Linked DNA regions of Homo sapiens. The gene in region 2 interacts genetically with the main gene of each other region. Each region holds a gene or a part of one and is shown on either strand. Other genes may lie near its edges.

The links.
Region 1: changes in ARL5B (region 2) and CHRAC1 together harm fitness less than expected from each alone (positive genetic interaction), as found in Homo sapiens cells (one large-scale study listed by BioGRID).
Region 3: changes in ARL5B (region 2) and TRAPPC13 together harm fitness more than expected from each alone (negative genetic interaction), as found in Homo sapiens cells (one large-scale study listed by BioGRID).
Region 4: changes in ARL5B (region 2) and TRAPPC12 together harm fitness more than expected from each alone (negative genetic interaction), as found in Homo sapiens cells (one large-scale study listed by BioGRID).
Region 5: changes in ARL5B (region 2) and RABGEF1 together harm fitness less than expected from each alone (positive genetic interaction), as found in Homo sapiens cells (one large-scale study listed by BioGRID).
Region 6: changes in ARL5B (region 2) and DCAF7 together harm fitness less than expected from each alone (positive genetic interaction), as found in Homo sapiens cells (one large-scale study listed by BioGRID).
Region 7: changes in ARL5B (region 2) and EZH2 together harm fitness more than expected from each alone (negative genetic interaction), as found in Homo sapiens cells (one large-scale study listed by BioGRID).

The regions. Positions count from the first base shown.
Region 1 is NC_000008.11:140,514,322-140,517,654, forward strand, and holds the end of CHRAC1 (chromatin accessibility complex protein 1), read left to right. Parts: intron 1-47; coding exon 48-174; intron 175-804; coding exon 805-926; 3' UTR 927-2,833; downstream 2,834-3,333. UniProt on the Homo sapiens protein: Forms a complex with DNA polymerase epsilon subunit POLE3 and binds naked DNA, which is then incorporated into chromatin, aided by the nucleosome remodeling activity of ISWI/SNF2H and ACF1.
Region 2 is NC_000010.11:18,676,431-18,679,284, forward strand, and holds part of ARL5B (ADP-ribosylation factor-like protein 5B), read left to right. Parts: 3' UTR 1-2,854.
Region 3 is NC_000005.10:65,638,527-65,642,026, forward strand, and holds part of TRAPPC13 (trafficking protein particle complex subunit 13), read left to right. Parts: intron 1-3,500.
Region 4 is NC_000002.12:3,417,694-3,421,193, forward strand, and holds part of TRAPPC12 (trafficking protein particle complex subunit 12), read left to right. Parts: intron 1-3,500. UniProt on the Homo sapiens protein: Component of the TRAPP complex, which is involved in endoplasmic reticulum to Golgi apparatus trafficking at a very early stage.
Region 5 is NC_000007.14:66,775,233-66,778,732, forward strand, and holds part of RABGEF1 (rab5 GDP/GTP exchange factor), read left to right. Parts: coding exon 1-161; intron 162-3,500. UniProt on the Homo sapiens protein: Rab effector protein acting as linker between gamma-adaptin, RAB4A or RAB5A. Involved in endocytic membrane fusion and membrane trafficking of recycling endosomes. Stimulates nucleotide exchange on RAB5A. Can act as a ubiquitin ligase.
Region 6 is NC_000017.11:63,577,977-63,581,476, reverse strand, and holds part of DCAF7 (DDB1- and CUL4-associated factor 7), read right to left. Parts: intron 3,008-3,500; coding exon 2,849-3,007; intron 2,141-2,848; coding exon 2,029-2,140; intron 1,653-2,028; coding exon 1,534-1,652; intron 1-1,533. UniProt on the Homo sapiens protein: Involved in craniofacial development. Acts upstream of the EDN1 pathway and is required for formation of the upper jaw equivalent, the palatoquadrate. The activity required for EDN1 pathway function differs between the first and second arches.
Region 7 is NC_000007.14:148,814,792-148,818,291, forward strand, and holds part of EZH2 (histone-lysine N-methyltransferase EZH2), read right to left. Parts: intron 3,327-3,500; coding exon 3,086-3,326; intron 2,601-3,085; coding exon 2,431-2,600; intron 1,988-2,430; coding exon 1,893-1,987; intron 1,164-1,892; coding exon of another isoform or gene 1,157-1,163; exon of another isoform or gene 762-1,156; intron 756-761; coding exon 715-755; intron 249-714; coding exon 123-248; intron 1-122. UniProt on the Homo sapiens protein: Polycomb group (PcG) protein. Catalytic subunit of the PRC2/EED-EZH2 complex, which methylates 'Lys-9' (H3K9me) and 'Lys-27' (H3K27me) of histone H3, leading to transcriptional repression of the affected target gene.

The DNA.
Region 1 (3,333 bases), on a different chromosome or scaffold from region 2:
ACATTTTCAAAGCACACCTTTCATTTGCATTTTTCATTTTGTTCTAGGAGCTCTTTGTTCAATGCCTAGCCACCTATTCCTACAGACACGGCAGTGGAAAGGAAAAGAAAGTACTGACTTACAGTGATTTAGCAAACACTGCACAGCAATCAGAAACTTTTCAGTTTCTTGCAGGTACTTAGTCTTTGAAACATTCTGGTTAAAAAATGATTAGTAATCAATAGCTCTTTCCCCACCCCTTGCCTCCCTTCTGCTCTCACGGAAAATTAGACTTTTTGCTACTTTTTCCAAGCCGCAAAGTACTATGAGTTGTCACAGGAAGATACTTTTAGTCTTCTCTGTTTGAATGTGTTTGTCATGTGGTCCACCTAGAACAATAGTGAAGCCAACAACATTCACAAGATGTTGGTTGGCCGCGTATGCTGGGCAGTCCTTTACTCTCTACAGGGACCCTGCCTGCCACTGAAGGGAAAACTCAGGGTGGGTCTACATGGCCGTAGTTAGAGCTTAAGTCTACCCTGGGGCTAGCCTAGGCTATCTCAGGTAGTCGGGCAGGGTTGCTCATAAAAGCAGCTCATAGAGACACCATGGTTTGTACTCATTGGACTGGAAAGAGGCCTATAGCGTTCGTTAGGAGACAATGCTAGTTTCTTTGATATTTTACCCAGAAATGCAGCCTGAATTTCATCTTGTTTTGGAACCTCTTATAGAGGTCAAAGCAGGAACTAGTACATTTTGAAATGTGCATTGCTGTGTTCATAGTCTACCATAACCAATTGCTGATGTACGCTTTATGTTTTTAAGATATATTACCAAAGAAGATTTTAGCTAGTAAATACCTGAAAATGCTTAAAGAGGAAAAGAGGGAAGAAGATGAGGAGAATGACAATGATAATGAAAGTGACCATGATGAAGCTGACTCCTAAACCAAAAGTGCTTTAAAAACCAGCCTGGCGAGGACAGCCCTGGACCCACTCCACTGTCTCTAAGTAAACACAGCACTGCCCGCTTTTAGCGTCTTCACTTCTTCACAGAGTTCCAGTGTGTGGTATTCTTTCGAGGTATTCTTTCCAGGCCGAGATTGAGCACCTCATGTACCTACGCCACAGACAGCCAGAGGGAAAGCGACCCAGACAGCAGCCCCTCCTCGACAGGCCCACCCTGCAGCTCAGGCACCAAGAAAACAGCCGATACTGGCAGCCATTGCAGCTCCAAACTGCAGAGGCAAGGCCAATTTTAACTTTTCAATTTACAGTCGATTTTGAAGAGCTTCTACATATCGGTTATGTAAATTCATATATGTATATTTTGGAATCAGTTCTTATAAACAGCTCGATTCAGTTTTAGCTAAATTTATAGTTTAGGTAGTATGTTACATTTGAATTTTTGTCTTAAGAAAAGTTGACTGTTCAGATATTTTTCTACTGTAAAGAAATATACTTTTCTATTAAAGATCTGTACATATTTTTACAGTAAAATGCTTTATGGAACTAGTTTTAGAGCCCTCTATGGCTTTAAGGCCTTGCTTACTGCCTGCAAATTTTGAGAAATTTAAAAATAAGCATTCTAACACTTTTATTCCCACAGAAAAATTCCAAGTCAAATTATCAAATCAAATACAAAAATAAGTCTTACCTCTTGTATAAGCATGTTGTACTAAAAAAAAATTTTGAAACATTTTGTATATTGGAGATCTCTCTCATCTTACTGTTCTTTGCTTTAAATTCCTGGCACTTCTTTTTACTGTCTATAAGAGAAAACCTATCATAAGCCCAATTTTTTTTTTCCACTTAGGGTAAATGTTTGGCTCCTCTCATTTCATTATCTTTTTTTTTTTTTTTTTAAAGACAGATTCTCACTCAGTTGCCCAGGCTGGATTGCGGTGGCGCTGTCTCAGCTCACTGCAACCTCCGCCTCCCAGGTTCAAGTGATTCTCCTGCCTCATCCTCCTGAGTAGCTGGGATTACAGGCGTGTGCCACCATGCCCAACCTATTTTTGTATTTTTTAGTAGAGACGGGGTTCACCATGTTGGCCAGGCTTGTCTCAAACTCCTAACCTCAACTGATCCACCTGCCTCAGCCTCCCAAAGTGCCGCCGGGATTACAGGCGTGAGCCACCATGCCTGGCCTTCATTATCTCTTTTTTAAAAATGAAAAAGTTTATAATTTACATTCAGTAAAATCACCCTTTTTAGTGTCTAGTCTGTGAATTTTGACAAATGCATGGTTTTGTAACCAATCGATAGGACAGTTCTGCCACCCAGGACATTCCCCTCTGTTCCTCTGTTCCTCTCTTCTCCTGCCCCCTAGCAACCACTGGTGTTTTCTGTCCCTCTTGTTCATTGACATTTATTTTAAAATAAAATATTTTAAAATCTACTTTTTGGTGTACAGTTCTGAGTTTTGGCAAATGCAGTCAAGTCACTACCACCACCACAATTAACAGCTATATCACCCTCCAGTAAATTCCCTGTGGTCAGCTCCTTCCCCACCTTTTACCGTGGCAACCGTCAAGCTATTCTCTGTCCCTATACCAGGTGTCATCAAATTTTTTTCTGGAAAGGGCCATGCAGTAAATAGTTCAAGCTTTGTGGGCTTTTATAGTCTCTGTTGCTGCTGCTGAACTCAGCTGTTGTAGCACGAAAGCAGCCAGGTAATTACTAGATGAAGGAATGCAGGTGGCTGTGTTTCAATAGAGCTTTATTTCTGCAAACTGAAACTTGAGTTTTGTGTAATTTTCATGTGTCATGAAATACTGTTTTCTCCAACCATTTAATAATGTAAATACTTGCTAGCTTATGTGCCATTAAAAAATGACTTGATTTGGCTTACAGACCAGTTTGGTGGCCTGTCTTTTCCAGAATGTCATATAAATGGAATCATTCAGTATGTAGCATTTGAGTCTGCAGTTGTTCTGTTTAGCAGAATGCATTTGAGATTCATCCGTGTTGTCACAGGTATCAGCAGTCCATTCCTTTATATTGCTGAGTAGGATTCCATTGTATGGATGTATCTGTTTATCCATTTTCCAGGTATATGGATAATTACCCATTTAGATTGTTTCTAGTTTTGATGATTGTAATTTTTTTTTTTTTTTTTTTTGACAGGGTCTCACTCTGTCACCCAGGCTGGAGTGCAGTGGCATGATCATGGCTTACTGCAACTTCCGCCTCCTGGGTTCAAGCGATTCTTGGGTCTCAGCCTCCTGAGTAGCTGGGATTACGGGCACGGCGTCACCACACTTGGCTCATTTTTTTGTACTTTTAGTAGAGATGGGGTTTCACCATGTTGGCCAGGCTGGTCTCGAACTCCCGACATCAAATGATCCGCCCA
Region 2 (2,854 bases):
TCATAATCTATCAAAAGTTTATTTATTGGATGGCATTAAAACATTTTTGAGGCAGTTGTCTAATATGAACAATAATCTAAACAATATATTCCTTAAATTAAGAGGAAAGACAAGTGTCGTATTTCGATCCTGTTTATTCAAATGTGTGATTTTGCTGAAATGAAAGGGATAAAATGAATACTTAGAGAATAATACTTCATTTTTGCAGTACTTTTTAATTTTGATAAAAAAGATACAAAGTTCATAATATCAAAATATGTGTTCAAAATTGGTATTTTAATTTTAATATTTTTGTAAGTTGATTTAAATTTTGCTCTTTTTTCAGGTGTGCTTGGTTTATTATATTTAGTCAAGTTAATTTAGTCGAATGTGGTAACATTTTTCTGATTTATCTTTAGTTGGAGCACACCCTTGAACTGAACAGTGGCCAAAGGAAAGCTTTCTGGGCTTTGGAAAGTAGTTGTTTAACTTTGTTTTAAGCCGTTTTCTTAGTGATTCTGTATCAAGTAGAGGATAAGTGTAGTTTAACTTAGTTTTTAATATAACCCATAATCAAGAACATGAGCGAAAAGCAGACATAAATCGATATGGATGGTTTGTGGTGTGTGTGGGATGTGGGGGAATTAAGAAAATGCCATTTACCTAAGCACAGTTTGCCTGAATTTCTGCTTGGTTGTGTTGTTTACCGTAAGTACTGAGGGTAGTTTCCCTAAGTCTGTCCTGAGAAAAAGCATACTTAGTACTCCTGTATTTGTTCTTATGAAATGACTATCTGCCTTCTTGTATCTAGTAAGATTGGCTGGCTCAATTTTCTTCTGTCAAATTATATGGTTATTTTTTATATTACCACATCAGCATTATATTAAAAGTGTTTTTAATAGTTGATTGTATTTTGCCAACTACTAGTATAGACTCAAATTTGCTATTTAATTTTTAAAATACAATTTATTTTGTAAATCCTTTAAAAAATATTTGGTTAGTTTTGGATTAGAAATGATTTATGTTAGCCATGTGTTGAAGATGAAATTGGCATCAGTGTAGACGGTGCTGATTGGGAAAAGTTCATGATTAGGAAATTCATGTAAGACTTTTTAAGAGTATTTTTTAGGTTTTCACTCAATCTTTCCTGTCACAGTAACGTGAAAACTGATTATTCTTTACTCCAAGAGAATGTTTTAACCCAAGCAAGTATCTAATACTAGAGCATTGGTTCTGACATTCATTGTAAATCAGTGAACTGTAAGATACTGTCTAAAAAATGTACATTTGTAATTAGTGCCTTTATTCATATTTTGAAATAAGTTCTTAGTTTTATATTATACCTGTTCTTTAGAAGTCATGTTAGCAGCTAATTATTTCAGTGATGAAATAATTTGTGTTTTATATCCCCCTTCACCTCCATGTATTGGTTAGCACAGTTTATAGTAAGTGAAAAGCAAGGGACCCACCTACATTACCTTCAGGAGACTGTTCTACCTTTTAATTTGAAAACAAGGAAATTAAATTTTAACAGAAATCTTTTAAGTATGTTATAACCAAAGTGTTCAATTATCCTTGCAAGTTCAAATACAGCATTTTTCTTAATTTTGAGCGTGTCATGTCCTTCATCTTTAAACCCATCATTCTTATTGAAGCCCATTTGAGAACTCTTAGAATTAATAGAACCTTTTATAAGGGAATATATGGAATATTTTTTATTGTTAATGTAACTTAATTCCTTAAAACCTGGAATATTAATATATATAATCTATTAAAAGCTGAAGATTAAATATGTAATTTTTGCTTTTAGTTTCTTGTGTTAGTATGCTTAAAGGTATCAATACTTTTATTCTATATTCATTAGAAGAAAGGTAATAAATTTAAGTTTCATTGCTGAAAAATTTTAAATGAGTGCCACCCCATAGCCATAGTCATTTTGATTAAGCATAATTTAACTTTCATTATAGCATAAAGAGAAAATAATTATTTTAGTATGGAAACAGTGATAGGCAGTGCTGTAAACAATATTCTCTGAAAAGTTGTGGGGGTCACAAAGAAAATTTTAAAGAATATAGAAGCTTTTTTAAAAAATCTTTTTAGTGTAGTTTCTTAGAACAAATTATAAACATAATCATTCTGAATAATCAATTTTTATTTAGTCCTTAACTATGTAAAACCGTATCAGTAGAAAAATGTGCTGGTGTCGTGTCTAAAGATGGATAAATTTCTTTGGAATTTATCTTTGGAGACCAACTTTATGAGGCAGACTTTTTGTCTACAGCTTTGGAACCAAAAAAACTTCACTCTAATTCAGTCCTAAAGGCTATTTTACATTTTGCCGGGGTAAAGTGACTTCAAGATACAGCATGGTGTCTTGTATCTAGTAGAATATTGTGCTAGCCATCTAAAAAAGTGGATTTGAGCCTTAATTTGGCCGTTTCTCAATTGTCTAGTTGACCTTAGACAATTAGTGTCCATGGCTTTCCTTTTGTTTTTCCCATACTGAGGAACTTAAACTACAGCTCTAAAATGTCTTTTGGTTTTAAAATTCTGAATGCTTATATACTACTATTAAAAATTAAAAATCCCTCAAATAGTAGGGCAATACAGGTAATATGAAATTAAATGTATTTTTATCCATTATTTGATTCCCACCTGTTATTTTATTTAGAATACGAATACAACCAAGTAGGGAAAAACGTATCAGTAACTGCTATTCAACTTAAATTCAGCGAATTAATAGCTGAATAGAAATAGCTAATGACAATGCAAAAGAGAAAACAAGCCATATTGCTAAGAAAAGGATAGTAAGCTGCTTAGAAAGAACCAGCCTGTGTTGGAAATAATTCTCTTCTAGATAATTTACCTTATTTTC
Region 3 (3,500 bases), on a different chromosome or scaffold from region 2:
CTTTTAACAGTGAACAAATTTCACTTGGTAAGAGTCCGTAAGGTGGTACAGAGGAATAGTAGCTGTATTAGTCCATTTTCATGCTGCTGATAAAGTCATACCCAAGACTGGGCAATTTACCAAAGAAAGAGGTTTAATGGACTTATAGTTCCACGTAGCTGGGGACAATCATGGCGGAAGGCAAGGAGGAGCAAGTCATGTCTCACGTGGATGGCAGCAGGCAAAGAGAGAGAGCTTGTGCGGGGAAACTCCCATTTTTAAAACCATCAGATCTCAGCCAGGCGTAGTGGCTCATGCCTGTAATCCTAGCACTTTGGGAGGCCAAGGCGGGTGGATCACTTGAGTTCAGGAGTTCGAGACCATCCTGCCCAACGTGGTGAAATACCATCTCTACTAAAAATACAGAAATTAGCCAGGAGTGGTGGCGTGTGCTTGTAATCCCAGCTACCTGGGAAGCTGAGGCAGGAGAATCACTTGAACCTGGGAGGCTGAGGTTGCAGTGAGCCAAGACTGTGCCACTGCACTCCAGGCTGCCTGGGTGACAGAGTAATACTCCATCCCCCAAAAAATAAAAATAAAACCATCAGATCTCATGAGACTTATTCACCGTCATGAGAACAGCACAGGAAAGACCCACCCCCATGATTCAATTATCTCCCACCAGGCCCCTCCCACAACACATGGGAATTACGGGAGCTACAAGATGAGATTTGGGTGGGGACACAGAGTCAAACCATATCAGTAGCCATACAATAGAGCATCTTGAAAGCCAGGCTAAGGTTTTATTTAACCTTTTTTGAAAAATTATTTTTTAAAATGGACAAAAAAATTAATTAAGAAAAAAAAAAACAGGCCTGGCACAGTGGCTCATACCCAGAATCCCAACACTTTGGGAGGCTGTGACAGAAGGATTACTTGAGGCCAGGAGTTCAAGACCAGCCTGGGAAACATAACGAGACTCCCATCTCTACAAACAATTTAAAAAGTAGTTGAGCATGCTGGCACACACCTGTAGTCCCAGCTACTCAGGAAGCTGAAACTGGAGGATTGTTTAAGCCCAGGAGTTTGAGGCTGCATTGAGTTTTGCCTGGGCACTCCAGCATGGGCTACAGAACAAGACCTGTCACTGAAAAAAATTAAATAAAAAACAGCAGGCAGTTGGCTTTTGAGCACTCTTTGTGTTAGAAAGACTGATATGAGCACATTGTGTGGGATGCTTTGTAGAAAATGGAACAGTTAGAAGACCTTTGAAGTAGTGTAGAAATTAAAAGATAGAATATGCTAACTCCGCTAATGACCTGAAATTTCTTCAAAAGAAAAAGAGCAAAAAGAAGGTAAGAACTCACAGTATGTGGGGGAGAGGTTTTTGTAAAACCTGTCTTAGAGTGATGAGTTCAGGTAATTGGAGTATTCCAAAAAGGACCTCTAATTAGAATGAGTTTGAAAATGATCATAGAGTTTTAAAGTTAACAAGGACGTTAGAGAGCAAATAGACCCAACTTCCAGAAACTGGATGCAAATTTGTGCATACACGTACATATGTTTGTCATATATGGATGGGGTCTCTGCCTTTCATTAAATTAGGAGTTGACAAACTACAGCCCAAAGACCAAATTTGGTCCATTGTCTGTTTTTATAAGGCTTTTGAACTAAGAATGGTTTTCACATTTTCAAATTATTGAAAAGAATATTTTGTGACTTGTGAAAATTACATGAAATTCAAATTTCAGGCCAGGTGTGGTGGCTCCTGCCTATAATCCCAGTGCTTTGGGAGCCAAGGCAGGAAGATTGCTTCAGGCTACGAGTTTGAGACCAGCCTACACAACATAGCAAGGCACCGCCTCTACAAACAAACAAAAAAGAAATTCAAATGTCAGTGTCCTTAAATAAAGCTTTACTGACACACAGCCATACTCATTTGTTTATGTTTTATCTGTGGCTGATTTCCAGCTACCACAGCAGAGTTGTATATAGTTGAAACGGAGATTGTATGGCCTCTAAAATCTAAAATATTTGCTAATGACTTCAGAGAAAAAGCTTGCCAACCTCTACATTCGATTGTGAAAAGATCTGATTTTCAAAAGTTTGAGAACATATACTTTTGTCTTTCTATGTTGTAAATATTGAATTTCTTGGAATTCAGTAAATACTGGCAATTCAGTAAATTCAGTAAATATTGAATTTATTTTTATAAGAGATTAATAAAATAGCAAAGGCATATACTTTAAGATGTCAGTACTATAAAGATCAAAGAATACAGTAGTATGCATGTTCTAAAACATGATTTTATATTTCATGCCTTTATTCACTTTTATAATAATAATTATAAGCAGTGTAGTACTCACTAGGGGTCTTAGGCTCAACTAGACATTCAGACTCATGATATATAATAATGCTATTTTTCTTTTTCTTTCTTTTTTTTTTTGAGAGAGGATCTAGCTCTGTCACCCAGGCTGGAGTGCAGTAGCATGATCATAGCTCACTATAACCTCAAACTCATGGGCTCAAGGGATCCTGCTGCCTTAGCCTCCTGAGTAGCTGGGATTGCAGGGGTGTGACACTATCCCTGTCTAATTTTTTAATATTTTTTAGAGACAAGGTCTTGCTATGTTGCTCAAGCAGGTCTTGAACTCCTGAACTCAAGCAAGCCTCCCGCATCAGCCTCCCAAAGTGCTGGAATTACACATGTGAGCCACCATATCTGGCCAGATAAGCCAATTGTGACATCAGAATCACTTAAGAGGATATAGGTCATGAAGCACAGCTTGATATTGACCTGTATTTGTGTGAGTGTTGTCTTTTGATCAGGTTTTAGGTGTCAGTATTATGGTTGCTTAATAAAAGATTTCGGATGTTTTTCCAGTATTTTCAGTGCTTTGGAACAATATGTGCATCAGGCTAGACTCAGTGGCTCATGGCTGTAATCCAGCACTTTGGGAGACCAAGGCAGGAGGAGCCCTTGAATCCAGGAGGATCCCCAGGACTCACCTGGGGAATATAATGATCGATGTCCCTACAAAAAAGAAATTTAAAAATTCTCTGGCCATGGTGGCGCATACTTGTAGTCCTAGCTACTTGGGAGGCTGAGGCAGGAGGATCACTTGAACTCATGAATTCGAGGCTGCAGTGAGCTATAATTGTGCCACTGCATCCTAGCCTGGATGACAGGGCAATACCCTGTCTGAGAAAAAAAAAAAAACAAAAAAAACAAGACAAAACAAATACAGAGAACTGTGGATCATTTAGATTACCTATTCTTTGAACGATTTGTAGAATTCCCTGCAAAATCATATGAGCTAGTTCTTTTCTTTTTTAAAATGGGGAAGCTCCCTGATAACACTTTTTCTTTTTTTTTTTTTCCTATGAATATAGTATGTTTAAGCAGTTTATCTCTAAGGGTGTCAATTTTGTTAAGCTGTTTTTTTCTAGGAAATAATCCATTTCATTTCATGTAGATTTTCACATTTATCTGCATAGAGGTCTGTAAAGTAGGCTCTTAA
Region 4 (3,500 bases), on a different chromosome or scaffold from region 2:
GAACTTCTTTGTTCTTCTTTCCACGAGAATTAAAACCTTAAGTTTCTCATTTTTAAAAATGGTCATTGGCCGGGCGTGATGGCTCACGCCTGTAATCTCAGCACTTTGGGAGGCCGAGGCAGGCAGATCACCGGAGGTCAGGAGCTCGAGACCAGCCTGGCCAACATGGCGAAACCCCATCTCTACTAAAAATACAAACTTTAGCCGGGCGTGGTGGCGGGCGCCTGTAGTCCCAGCTACTCAGGAGGTTGAGGCAAGAGAATCACTTGAACCCAGGAGGCGGAGATTGCAGCGAGTCGAGATCGTGCCACCGCACTCCAGCCTGGGCAATAGAGACTCTGTCTCAAAAAAAAAAAAAAAAAAAAACATTGTCATAGTGGCAGGCACAGTGGCTAATGCCTGTAATCCCATAATCCCAGCACTCTGGGAGGCTGAGGTGAGTAGATCACTTCAGCCCAGAAGTTCAAGACAAGCCTGGGCAACATGGGAAAACCATATCTCTACAAATACTCGCCTGCTTCTGCCACTCTGCACCATCAATATAAATAATAACTAATTCACAATAATCAGTCATGAAAGAATAAAATGGAAAACATGCCAAATGCAGGCCCCTGCTTTGTTATCACTGCATGCCATACACATAAAGTTCTCTGTCACGTGACTACAGGAGCATCTCCATTCCTGTGCCTCGTCCTCAGGTATCAGACGCAAGCCACTCGCGGGCTGAAGTCAGCCCACAGTCCTCCTTGAAGTCAACAGAAATGAACTACTGAGCCACGAGGGGCCTAGACCTGGGATCCGCCAGCGTTTTCTGTAAAAGACCATAGAATAAACATTGTAGACTTCCTGGCCATACAGTATCTGTCCAGCTCCTCAGCTCTGCTGTGAATGCCCAGCTCTTCCATGGTAGCACAGAACCTTATCACCGTGCAGGTGCACACGAGGCTGGGCTCTGGGTTCCTGTGAGCTCTGCCTACCAACTCAGGCAGTAGGGGGTGGGGGGCGTCCAAAGGATGTGCACAGATTGCCAGCACCAGGCCCAGCTGCTGGAACATCCTCATAGCTTTACTCACATCTACACGGACGCCTTAAGTTCACCCCATCAGTGCAGGGAGACAGGGGCCTTCAAATGTGATGACACGACACTGCTGTGGCCTGTGCTCTTGGAAGCCTGCAAAGGCCAGCACACCCGACCCTCCTCTGCCTCACCTCCTGTGCCACCCCATCCTCACCTGCTTCCCCAGCCTCTCCTCATCCACACCTGCTCGGCCCCTCCTCCACCGCCTCCCTCCGGCCCGCTGGTCCTTACTGCATCCCCTCGGGCCCTGCACCCTGCCCTCTGCTCCCTGTGCCCCCCATGCCTGCTCTCGCCTTGTTTTGCACACATTCTGTCCTCTTCTAGGGTCTCCGCCCCCTCCCCTTCCCTGATTAACTCCTGCCTGTCCTCACTGTAGGTCATGTCCTGAGGGAAGAGGGCCCCAGCCTTTCTAGCAGGAAAGGCCAGAGCCTTAGGCCTAGGGAACCAGGAAGGGAGCAGTTATTAGTTGCCCCTGGATACAGAATCTGCCTAGATGCATATATAGAACTGGTTCAGACTTGGCACAATCTCTTTCCCTCTCACTCTTTCACATTTGCAATTCAAAGAGAATATACAGAGCCATTTGTATTATATAAAGTGATTATTGCATTGAATTTAGACTAGAGAAGGCATTTGGAGATCGTTTTAGTAAATTATCGTAACCAATCTAAAAATACTTCTGAACTGTCAACCAGAACACAGAAATCCTGTATTACTTGCTGTAGTCTGGACAGTTTAGGGGAACGTGGCACCGATCTCATCTTCACCGTCGATCAGTGGTTCTCTGACTTGGTCCAGTGGCCGCACACCAGCTAGTGAAGAAAACCACAGACTCCAACTGCACTGTGTACGCTCTGGTGTCCTCATTTCCAAAAAAAAAAAAAAAAAATCTACAAGATAGAGTTTAAGAAATCTCATTTGAGTTGCCCTGCTAATATTTGCAGCTCGCTGGTGGGTGCCGTGGAGGCCAGTACTCACCGTCAGGCTGTGGCAGGTACAGTGAAAGGAAAAACTCCATGAGAGAACGGTGGAAAGTTCACCTGAGAGTGAAACGCATGCCAGTTAGAGTGGCTGAAAAATAGCATGGACAACACCAAGTGCCACGGGACGTGCAGCCGTGGGACCCCTCACTGCTAGGGAAGGCAAGATGGCACGGCCACTTAGGAAGACAGCTTGGCGGCCTCCTACAACACTAAACATACTCTTAGGTACAACCCAGCAATCCAGTTACTGCATTACGCTCCTGGATATTTCACCCAGTTATGCCGAATGCTTATATCCACACAAGAATCTGCCCAAAGATGTTGATACCAGCTTTATCCATAGTTGCCAAAAACTAGAGGCAACCAAGGGGTCCTTCGATAGGTCAGTGGGTAAACACACTGGTAATGTGGACAGTAGGATGTTCAGCATTTAAAAAAAAAACAACTATCAACCCCTCAGAAGACCTGGAGGAAACTGAGATGCCTGCAGCCCAGGGACGGCTGGTGGCTTGCAGCAGGTCACACGGCTACTCAGGCGTAGAGCCTGGCCTGTCTGAAGCTCAAGGCCCAGCACCCGTTCCTTTCCTTACACATAGAGTTTCACTAGGCACGCACACGCTGACTCTGGATTGATGAAGAAACAGTTTGGGAATTTTTAACAGCATCGTTCACATTTTTAATGCCTGCCTCCTGCCTGGCACTGTGCTCAGCACTTTCATGTATCTTCTTTAATTGTCACATCTGTGAGGTGGGACAGATGACCTCAGCTCTGTAAACTCAGCCATTGCTGAGCCTGCAGTGTGAGTGTGAGGCCACATGTCAGAACCCCGGAAGACACAAGCCCCACTCTCCTGCCTTCAACACAGCCCCCCACACCGCCGCTGTGGCTGGAATTGGAGCAGGTCGTTAGCTCCTGCCTGAGGAAGCCCAAATAAAGGACTGCAGAACAACTGTAGTGCAAAGCTGAGACTCATTGCCCTCCTAGGCGTTTCATGAGCAGGTCCTGAGTTCTCTGTGTCCCGGCGTGGAGTGCAGGAGGCGTGGAAAGGGAGTAGTGCGTGTGTGAGTTAGTATACAGAAGAAGTGTGTGGCAGGCTCTACCACACGTTTTTAAAATATGTAAACTCCTAAACTTCTTGTCAGAGAAGCGCTTGGCATGCACACAAAATCATTTAGCTAATTCTTGAGAAACATATTGTTTAATTGTCTGTCTCCCTTGCTAGATCATACCACTAATGAGTGCTCGTTCACTAACCTCCCCGCCAGCCTTGCAGTCTCTGTCAGGCAGGAGGTACTTAAAGCATGTTTATTGACTGGCTGCAGAAATGAGGACATCTACCGTATTCAAAGATAGTGCCCGTTACATTGAGAAAAGACAGAGTGAGCATCCACTTTTAGCTTCTTAAAAGGTTTAAACATTCTGATCTTATTTTCCCATT
Region 5 (3,500 bases), on a different chromosome or scaffold from region 2:
GCGGGAGGAAGAAGAGGCCTTTGCCAGCAGTCAGAGCAGCCAAGGGGCCCAATCCCTCACATTCTCCAAGTTTGAAGAAAAGAAAACCAACGAGAAGACCCGCAAGGTTACCACAGTGAAGAAATTCTTCAGTGCATCTTCCAGGGTCGGATCAAAGAAGGGTAATGTTCTGATACTCTTTTTTTTCTTCTCTGCCTGAGTGAGACACAGAGGAGATCCCCAATGCTCATAAGCTCAGCTTTGTAATTTCTGTCAACTTTTTGAGAACATCAGCTCAGATTTGACACTGAAATTGGGCTTGAGGGTCAGACAGTATATGAAATCAATACTCTCTTTGGTTGAAAGACATTGTGTTTTAGAGAAATTTGTTTATAGGAGGAATCAAGAGAATTGAAATAGGTACTTTTGCTTATGAAATTCATCCCCATCCAAATGACTATCTCTTTGGATGTTTTGGTTTTTGTGCCTTTATTTGTGGATCCTGGTTTGTTCTGTGGTATAATACCCTCACTGTTCATAGCTTGTCAGAAATGGTGATTTCTAGGCTTGATAGTCATCTGAGAGAGAGATTTTCTGCCTGAGAGCTTATTTGAGAGACAGCTTGTGTCTTGAGGAAGTGTATTGAGAACATATAGGAAAAGGCCCAAGTTGGGCTCTTGGGGGGATGAAAGTGAGCCATAGTAGCTATTTTCCAGTGCATGGATTTGTATGTAGGTGATCATATTCACCCTGCTTTTTAAAATGCCATATAACCAGCAAGAGGATTGTCACTTAAGTCACAGTTGTTCTACCATTGAGCAGACTAGCTAGTTGAAGTGGCCCAACATGAAGCAAGAAAGACTCTTTGTTGTTAGGCCTCAGTCTGTCTTTGAAAATTTATGTTGGTACTCAGAGTTATGCAGTCAAAGCGAAATAATGAGGGAGACTGGGAACCAACACTGATGCTGTCAGAAGACCTGTTCTCTGGGAGCCCCCTCACTTGCTCCCCAGTTCCTACCCTGGGGTAATTGTAATGAGGTCTCCCCTGAAGGCCGGGGAATGAATAATAAGACAGTGTTACTTCTTAAGATACTTGCTGGTCTTCTAGGTTTTGTGACTTTTGCTGTTTCCTTTTGTTTTATTAAAAGGAAATATTGCTCATAACCAAAAACACACCTCTCTTTAAGACATGGATACCAGACCTGGTGCGGTAGCTCAAGCCTGTAATCTCAGCGCTTTGGGAGGCCAAGACAGATGGATTACCTGAGCTCAGGAGTTTGAGACCAGTCTGGGCAACATGGTGAAACCCCGCCTCTACAAAAAATAGAAAAATCATCCAGGCACAGTGGCATGTGCCTGTAGTTCCAGCTGAGGCCAGAAGGCTGAGGCAGGAGAATCATTTGAATCTAGGAGGAGGAGGTTGCAGTGAGCCGAAATCGTGCCATTGCACTCCAGCCTGGGTGACAGAGCAAGACCCTGTCTAAAAAAAGGAAAGAAAAGAAAAAAGATTGATTACATGATTAATTTGAAGTTGTTTCTTGGTTGGCTGCCAGTTGTAGCAATTTTATCTCTACGAAAAAGGGGGGAAAAATTAGTACCTGCCAGAGATTAAATAAGAATGTATTGGGCTCATGATTTATTTATTAGGAGGTGGAATAGCCAGGTAGTAAGGTGACTTTGGAGTCACTCCTGGTTTGAGCCCTAGCTTTGTATTTACCAGCTTTGTGACCTTGGACAGACTAACCTCTCCGAGTCCTGTCCACACTGAGGGACAATAATACCTACCAGAGGCACGTGATGAGGATTCAGTGAGTTAATGCATGTAAAGAGCTTAGCACAGTGCCTGACACACACAGTAGATCTCCAGTAAGTGTTAGCTGTTTTAAAATGCAAGTTATTCTTCTGATAGAATTATCTTGCAGGGAGCACAAGGGCATTTGCTATGAAGAATACTCATTCCTATTTAGCTTAAGGTCTGTTTCTTGATGATATGTAGTGAAATGATAAGTATTTATGATAACAGATGAAATAGTAAAACAAGTATAAAATTATCAGCTCCAATAGCCTCATTTTGCAGAGGACAGTGTGAAAGTCCATAAAGGTTAACTAATTTACCCAAGGTTGCACAATGAGTTTGTGCATGAGAACTCATGTCTCCTAATTCCTGGGTCAATATTTTTCCATTATATTCCTTTATCCAATGTGTATACTTCAGAAGCCCAGGTTATTTAATATATATCATAAATAATATATATATATGAAATTAAGTTTCTGTTACTTAAGTACATAATTGTCATTTATATTTGCTAACTCTCCTTGGTGGTTTTAAAAACCTGTGTCCCAAAAGCCTCTGTACAGTGTGCATTATACTATTGAAAGAAAATTTACAATTCAATGCAGAGTCTGTACTTTAAAAAGAAACATTTCTGGAGCTGGGTGCAGTGGCTTCTACCTACCTATAATCCCAGCTACTTGGAAGACTAAGGTAGGAGGATTACATGAGCCCAGGAGTTAGTGGCTGCAGTGAGCTCTGATTGTGCCACTGCACTCCAGCCTAGGCAGCAGAGTGAGACACCAACATTAAAAAAATTAATTAATTAATAAAGAATCCAGGTGAATTTTGTTTTAAAAATATGTATGCAGAATGATTTTTACCTTTGTTCTTGTCTCCCCTCATCCCCCATCTTTTTGAATGATAGATTTGTACTTTAGATTGTTTGTTCTTTAGTTGCTTTTTGTCTGTAGAAAGCTTTGGGGATAAAGACCTTAAAGTATTTTAAAAATTCATGTTAGAAAAGAAGATTCCATTGTATCTTTGTTTCACAGATCACTTAATATAACTTAGCCAGGTAAATTTTGCATTTCACACTGATTACTTTTGTTTGGCCATTGTGTTTGGATAAGATTAGCCTAAGTGCCGTTTTAATGTATTAGGTCTAGACTAGAAACAGACTTTTTGGATTCTGTATTCTTGAATCTTCCTTAGTCCATGATACCCTTGCTGTTGGTGTTTTACTTGCTTCTGTTAGTAGCATAAAGGAAAGTTTTTATGCCATACGTAGCAGCTTGGTAGCAGACAAAATACAAATAACCTTCTAAGGAATTTGAAGAATATCTTCACATTCTTTTAGAGTTGGATACGCCTTCAGAGAAAGTAAATGGAATGTCTTGACTGTAAAGACTCAGTTAAAGTGTTTTAGTCTCTACAGTCAGGGTGAGTGAGCTGTATAGAGGAAGTCATAGTGGTTGACCAAGCTGAGATACTTGCTTATACATTCCAAAGTGCCCTTTTCTTTCAGAACTCCTATAATGTTGTCATTCCAAGTAGAATCTTGTGTACCTCTTTCATGAACGGATCTGAAGACGGTGATTCTCTAAAGCATATCTTTTCATTTTTAGAGTTAAAATACCAATACCACCCAGACCTTAGAAAGTAAACCTATTATTCATTAAAGTGAATCAGGGCTTCTTGGAGAAGTGACTGATTCTGGGGCTAGAGTAGGGAAAAAAGGGCCCCTTCA
Region 6 (3,500 bases), on a different chromosome or scaffold from region 2:
GGCTCCAGGAACCCTGCCTCCTCCCATGGTCCCTCTGGCCTATAGGCAGCTGCAGCTTCCTGCTGCTCCCATTCTATGGATGACCTCACTGCTACCTATGTGGCTTCTCAGCTTTACCATCTTCTGTATAAGCAGCCCCTGGATTAAATCCCTGCAGTTCAAATACTTAAGAGTAGTTCCCATTTTCTGGGTTGGACCTAACAGACAACAGCAGGCTAAGTTGTCATATAACTAAAATGTAGCCGCTTGTTCAACTTGATGCCAAGAGGGTTTCCAGAAGTTCCTTACTGGTCCTCTCTGTGGGACAAACTCTTCATTTGACCCCTGGTTTAGCAGCAGTCAACTCTAGAAGTCTTGTAACAGGGCTTACCTTCAGGAGTACAGAAAGCCAAAGACAACCCCTTACTAAGAATGATAACCTGGGTCACATCTTCCTATGCTGTTGACAACCTCAAGTTTCTGACCTAAGATCAAGGCATTCCTTTTATCTGTATAGATATTAATACCCCTAGCTGTGCAGGGTAAGGTAGAAAAGAACAGGAAATAGTACCCACAGGAGATGAGAGTACCAGGAGCATGCAATGGCTGTAGGAGGAAAAGACTTATGGGGATTTTCCAAAATCACTGAGAAGAATGCTTTGATTAAAATGCAATTGGCCGGGCGCAGTGGCTCACGCCTGTAATCCCAGCACTTTGGGAGGCCAAGGTGGGTGGATCACCTGAGGTCAGGAGAGTTCGAGACAATCCTGGCCAACATGGTGAAACCCTGTCTCTGCTAAAAAATACAAAAATTAGCCAGGGGTGGTTGCGGGCACCTGTAATCTCAGCTACTCCGGAAGCTGAGGCAGGAGAATTGCTTGAACCCAGAAGGCAGAGGATGCAGTGAGCCCAGATTGCGCCATTGCACTCCAGCCTGGGCAACAAGAGGAAAACTTTGTCTCAAAAAAAAAAAAAAAAAAAAAAAAAAAAGCAATCACAAATAGCTCTTCTCAGTTTTCCCAATAAACACAGAAGCATCGCCATCAAAATAAAATATATTCCATTGCCTCCACTGCCAACAGTAATGAAAGTATAAAGATTAAGTGAACATACTAGGATTTGGTAAAACATTTATAGAGAAAAATGAATAATTACGTTTGTCTCTCAGAAAATTTTTTCTCTTCCTGTCTCCCTTCTTTCCTCCCCAAATCTAATCTGTTTCAAGATAAGTATTACTCTAAAGTTATTTTTTAATCACATCAGTTCCCAGCTCCTCTATAAGAGACTTTGTTATTTAAAAAAAGCAACCTCTGGCATGAAAAGAACAATGACAGACCGTAGAATAGGTCATTTACATTAGCCAAAAAAAAGCATTAGTTTACAATAGTGTTGTTTTCCCGTTTTTGATACATTACTATTGTCAATTTAGACAAGAAGATGTTATGTTATGATTTTCTACATAAATTGCAGAACAATGAGAGAACAAGCTGACCTCTTCCTGTGCGGAAGGCACAGGAAGCATTTGAGGAAAGACGAAATGGAAAAGCATCTTACCTCTTTGTCATGGGCGATCAGCTGGGTCTTCACGTGGCCAGACACGAGATTCACTCGCCCTAACACCTGCCCTGTCTCCAGCCCCCAGATGGTGCATGTCGTATCAATGCTTGAGGTACCTGCAAACAACCAGTGCAAGTCAGGGCTGACGGGACCAAGGTTCTCATGCAAGCTTCCCTCTTGTGTTTACTCATCTGCTCAGCCCAGGGAGCAGCATACCATAAAGACTACAGAAAACAAGGTGGGGGCTACCGGCAGAGCCACCGAGGCAGTCAAGTCTTCAGTCCTCACCGTAGGACCTTAGATTCTAACTGGAGAGACAAGATCTATACACACGGAAAGCTCACCCACACAAAGGAATTAATAAATAACCACATTCCACGCCTAGCCTACTTCCCACTGAGCCTTGTTCTAGGATGTATGGCCCAGTGTGACATCTGAGAAAATTTATTTTGGCTTCTTCCAGCTGAAATACATACTCCCTAACTCCCTTACCTAAAAGATAAGGATCCACCTCATTCCAGTCAAAGGAGGTCAGGGGAGCACAGAAATCAGAGTTCTTATTATTGTTTAGCAAACACTCCAGCCTGGTCTCTGTTTCACCAACCTGAAGGAACAAGAATTTTAAAAAAAATCAGCCAGTCTTATCCTCATAAAAAGTCTTTTAAAAAATCCCTGTTTAGAAAATATCTTAGCAAACATAAGACATGAGGGGAAAACATTTTTATCAAAAACAGTAATAAACCCAGGACTCCCTGAATGCTACTTTTTCCCATACTTTCTCCTCTGCCCAGCTTTGTTTTCTACATTTTCATCCCTGCACCTTCCTAGAGGAGAGGTCTTCTCACTTTGCCCAGCCTGGAACCTCTGCACAGGTGTACTAAGGCCACGCCCATGCTACAGAGGACGCTGCTGCTGATGAGCTCAGCTGAGGGTGGAGGGAAGCCTCCAAGATCCACTCACACACTTTATCAGAATCAATGGCCTGGTATTTCATTTAGTTTACTCAAAAATACCTTGGCTGCAAACAGAATATGAGTTCCCAAGTATTCCCACCTCCACTGAAGGCCGTCATCATCACCTCGGGTTGACTGAGCTGACTGCAGCCAGCAGCCAGACTTCATGGAATCTTGACTTGATATACTAGAAAATCTGCTGAGCCAAACGAGGCCAGTCCATTTAAGCTTCGCTTGCTTCTCCTGTGCTGCAATGACACTCGCTGCCTCTGACCCCTGTCTGTTCTGTGACTTTTCACTGCTAACAGCTGAGGCTGAGAAAGCCCACTTGTCTGGCTGCTAATAAAGCATCCGCTTACCCTCCACACACGGAGATAGTCACCGCTTGTTGCCAGTAGGTCTGGATAGACGCCTTTTGTGTCAGGGATCCACATGAGCTTTGTGGTGGGGTATGGGTGGTCAAAGGTGTTTCTGCAAATAAACTCTGAACTCTCCTCATCTAAACCAACAAGCTGAACCTGTAACATACCAAAGTTGAGCCACATAAGCATTTGTGAGCAGTACAGCAAATACATTAGATCCCTGGTCAGTGACAGAGGTTTTTTTTGTTTGTTTTTTGTTTTAAAGACAGGATCTTGCTCTGTTGCCCAGGCTGGAGTGCAGTGGTGCAACCACAGCTCAGTGCAGCCTCCACCTCCTGGTCTCAAGTGATCCTTCCACCTCAGCCTCTCAAGTAGCTGGGGTTAGAGGCATGCACCACCAGACACAGCTAATTTTGTTCATTTTTTGTAGAGACAAGGCCTCACATGTTGCCCAGGCTGGCCTTGAACTCCTGGGCTCAACTGATCCTCCCACCTCAGCCTCCCAAAAGTGCTGGGATTACAGACATGAGTCACTATGCCTGGCCAGTGACAGAAGTCTTGACACTGTACTACACTAAACTGCAGAATCAAAAACGATTGCCATGAGAGGGTATCTAGTCCAACCATCCTCTGGCAGACAAGGACACCC
Region 7 (3,500 bases), on a different chromosome or scaffold from region 2:
ATTGATGAGTTTCGTCAAGTAAACAAGGGAGTGCTCCCATGTTCTTATTTTTGATTTTTTAAATTGCTAACCAAAGACCTATTTAGTTCTCATGCAATTGCATCAAAGCAACAAATACTTACACTCTGAACTACATTGACAAAACTTTTCACAAAAATTTTGTGCTATCACACAAGGGCACGAACTGTCACAAGGCTGCCGTGGATGATCACAGGGTTGATAGTTGTAAACATGGTTAGAGGAGCCGTCTGAGTAAAGATAACATCATGCAGGCCAATGAATCCAGGGAGATGGAAACGATCATACACAATTAACACGAGTACATTCTTCCCTACTACCTGTGGAGTGTAGCTGGCCTGCCTTTACTGAATGCATAACATTACACATATTCCGGTTTCCACAACGATGGCAAAAAATACTCTCCCACCCCCAAGTGCTTATGAGTTCCATCTAAAGCACGGCTACATCTCAGTCCCATCCCAAAGCACTTCTCCTTCAACTGACTCGGACTCACACCTTCCAGTCAGCCTCCACTTTACAGAAGAGAATTGACTGGGGATTCATCAGTAGACGTCCTCCATTCAAATTGGTTTAACATACAGAAGGCAATTATATTAGAATAACCCAAGCTCTAATCCAGTTACTATTCTAAAACAAATGAAAACAAAGCAGATATTGTTAAGCTAATAATGAGAGGAATGGAAAGATGCTAACCCTTTTTCAGCTGTATCTTTCTGCAGTGTGCAGCCCACAACCTGCAAAAACACAAAGAAAATTAAACCAAATTTCTGCGGGAAGCTACAAATCCAACAGAGAGCTGCTTAACTGGATCTATCTGTGCCATGAATACAGGAATGCGTTAAAGCCAAGAGTCATGCCCTGCCCAGTTTATATTTGCCATCAGTTTGAAGCAACTCAAACAGCTTGATGGCTCAGGCTGCCCCAGGTGTGGCAAGACGTCATTTCCTGTGTTCATCCATGACTCCTGGTCAGAACTCCTGAGCTCCCAATGCTGCACAAAGCAGCAGGTGTGTCTGCCTGTTGATTTATTCTGATGTGGATGACACTGATCACTTCCTCTTATTTCAGGCATCATAAACCAAGCAAGTGAACTACGTGGTCAGAAATAATTCAACCAAAATTTCAGAAGCATCTCCTAAAGCCTAAAAAATAAAAATAAAAACTTGACTTTAAAAAAATTCTAAATTGGGTTGGCCCTACACTTATTTTTGTTAAAGTAAGAAAATGTAACATGAGCCTGTACACAATTTAAGAAGCATAATCTAACTGCACCCTTACCTACCCAATTAGGTTTCTCATTTTTAAAAATGTGAGGTAGAGGTATGGGGAGATTAGAGCAGATAGTCCACTCATCAATTTTTCTGGTTCTACATTTACAAATCAAATCAGCCTGAAAACATTCGCTAAGGTGAAAATAACATTCACACAAGCTTAAAGTAGGGTACCCATTAGGAGTATCGGAATGCAATGCCACACAACTTAGAAATTCAAGCTCCTGGAATAAAAGATACTTCTAAAAACTGGCCCAGAGCTCACATCAGAAACACAGAACATTTCATGATGTTAAAGTAATTGTTTACGTAACCTTTACTGCAAAAGCTACTAAATATGTTTTTCTTAACCCAAATGCAGTCTGGTAACCGTAATTTTTATGACTCTTAACATACCAAATATACTGAAGGCTGCTGTATTCTTATAGAAAAATACTAGCAATTCCCAGTGGAAATAAGATTCCATAGTTCTGTTTTTGATGGCAGTTTAAGGTTTTTTAAAAATAGACTAAGTAGAAACCAACAACAGCCCTTAGGAAGGGCCTTGCCTGCAGTGTCTATCTATGTTGACTTCTCTAAGGAGCTTCATGACAGACTCACCGGTGTTTCCTCTTCTTTTTCCTTGGAGGAGTATCCACATCCTCAGCGGGAGCTGGAGCTATGATGCTAGATTCTTTGACTCTAAACTCATACACCTGACAAGAGGCACAGTCACAGAGCCATGAGGACAGTCTTATTTAGGCAAACCATTCTTATACTCATGCATACCAGAAAAATGTCTTTGTCTCTTCTGTGACACTGCTAGATGCTGGGGATATAACACACATCGCTGTCCCTACCCTCACATTAGGGGTAGCTGTAATTATATTCTGGTCAAGAACTGTGATGCTAAATTTCAATTCTTACTAGCTTTTAAAAGCTACTGCTATCTAACCTTAAAAGTCTACATTGGGGAAATTCTGTAACATACCTGGAGAATAATTTTCATTCAATTCCCTCTTGGGAAGAAAAAAAAATTATTTTTAGGAGATGAATAGGAGCTTAGTAATAACCAAGAATTTTCTTTGTTTGGACAACGAGTACAGTTTTATCTCTATGTTTGAAGCTCTTTTAACAACATTTTTATCGGATATCTTACCTGTCTACATGTTTTGGTCCCAATTAACCTAGCAATGGCACAGAAATTGTCATAGTAAGTGCCAATGAGGACTCTAAACATTGAGGCTTCAGCACCACTCCACTCCACATTCTCAGGAGGTTCAATATTTGGCTTCATCTTTATTGGTGTTTGACACCGAGAATTTGCTTCTACAAAACCAAATGTAAGCACTGGTCAAGAAATGATTGGAAATAATATTAAGAAGTACAATTCAGGGTGTGCTTAAGAAAAAAGCGAAAAGATGAGGACAACTCAAATCCAATCGGCAAAACACTAACCCATCGTAGTTCACATTTTCCAACAAAACTACTCACAGAACGTCAAGAATATTAAACCAAATGATCCAAATTTCATTATTCCCTACCTGAGAAAGATCGAAAAAAGAAAATGGCACAAAGAATGAGAATAAAGTGCATCATCAGCTTTCAAACAACCAAGCAGGGCAAACACCACAAGCTAGGGTACGGGTGCAGGCAGGAAACAGAAACAACACAGCTACACATTCTTGAGATAACTCTGGTCTTTATACTGAAACTAACCAACTAAGAAAATTATTCAATGCATTATACATCCTTAATCCTCACAACACGAACTTTCACAGAACAGTAAAACCCAGTTATTAGACGTGTCTTACCAGAGGAGCTCGAAGTTTCATCTTTCTTCTCTTCTTCTTCTTTATCATTGTTCTCTCCCCCCGTTTCAGTCCCTGCTTCCCTATCACTGTCTGTATCCTTTGATTCCAGCACATTAATGGTGGGGGTGCTGGGCCTGCTACTGTTATTGGGAAGCCGTCCTCTTCTGCGGCCTCCTGGACGTTTTGGTGGGGTCTTTATCCGCTCAGCGGTGAGAGCAGCAGCAAACTCCTTTGCTCCCTCCTACGAAATGAAAAATGTCAACATCAGGGCAAAGTTCTAAAACTCATTTTGATGGAAGAGAAAAAAAAATACTATATAAGCCAGGTTAGTCAAAAAATGTATCACATTATCCATTTATCACAAATAATCATTTGCATGTCTAATATACTTGTTTTGATATGCTTTTGATAGTCT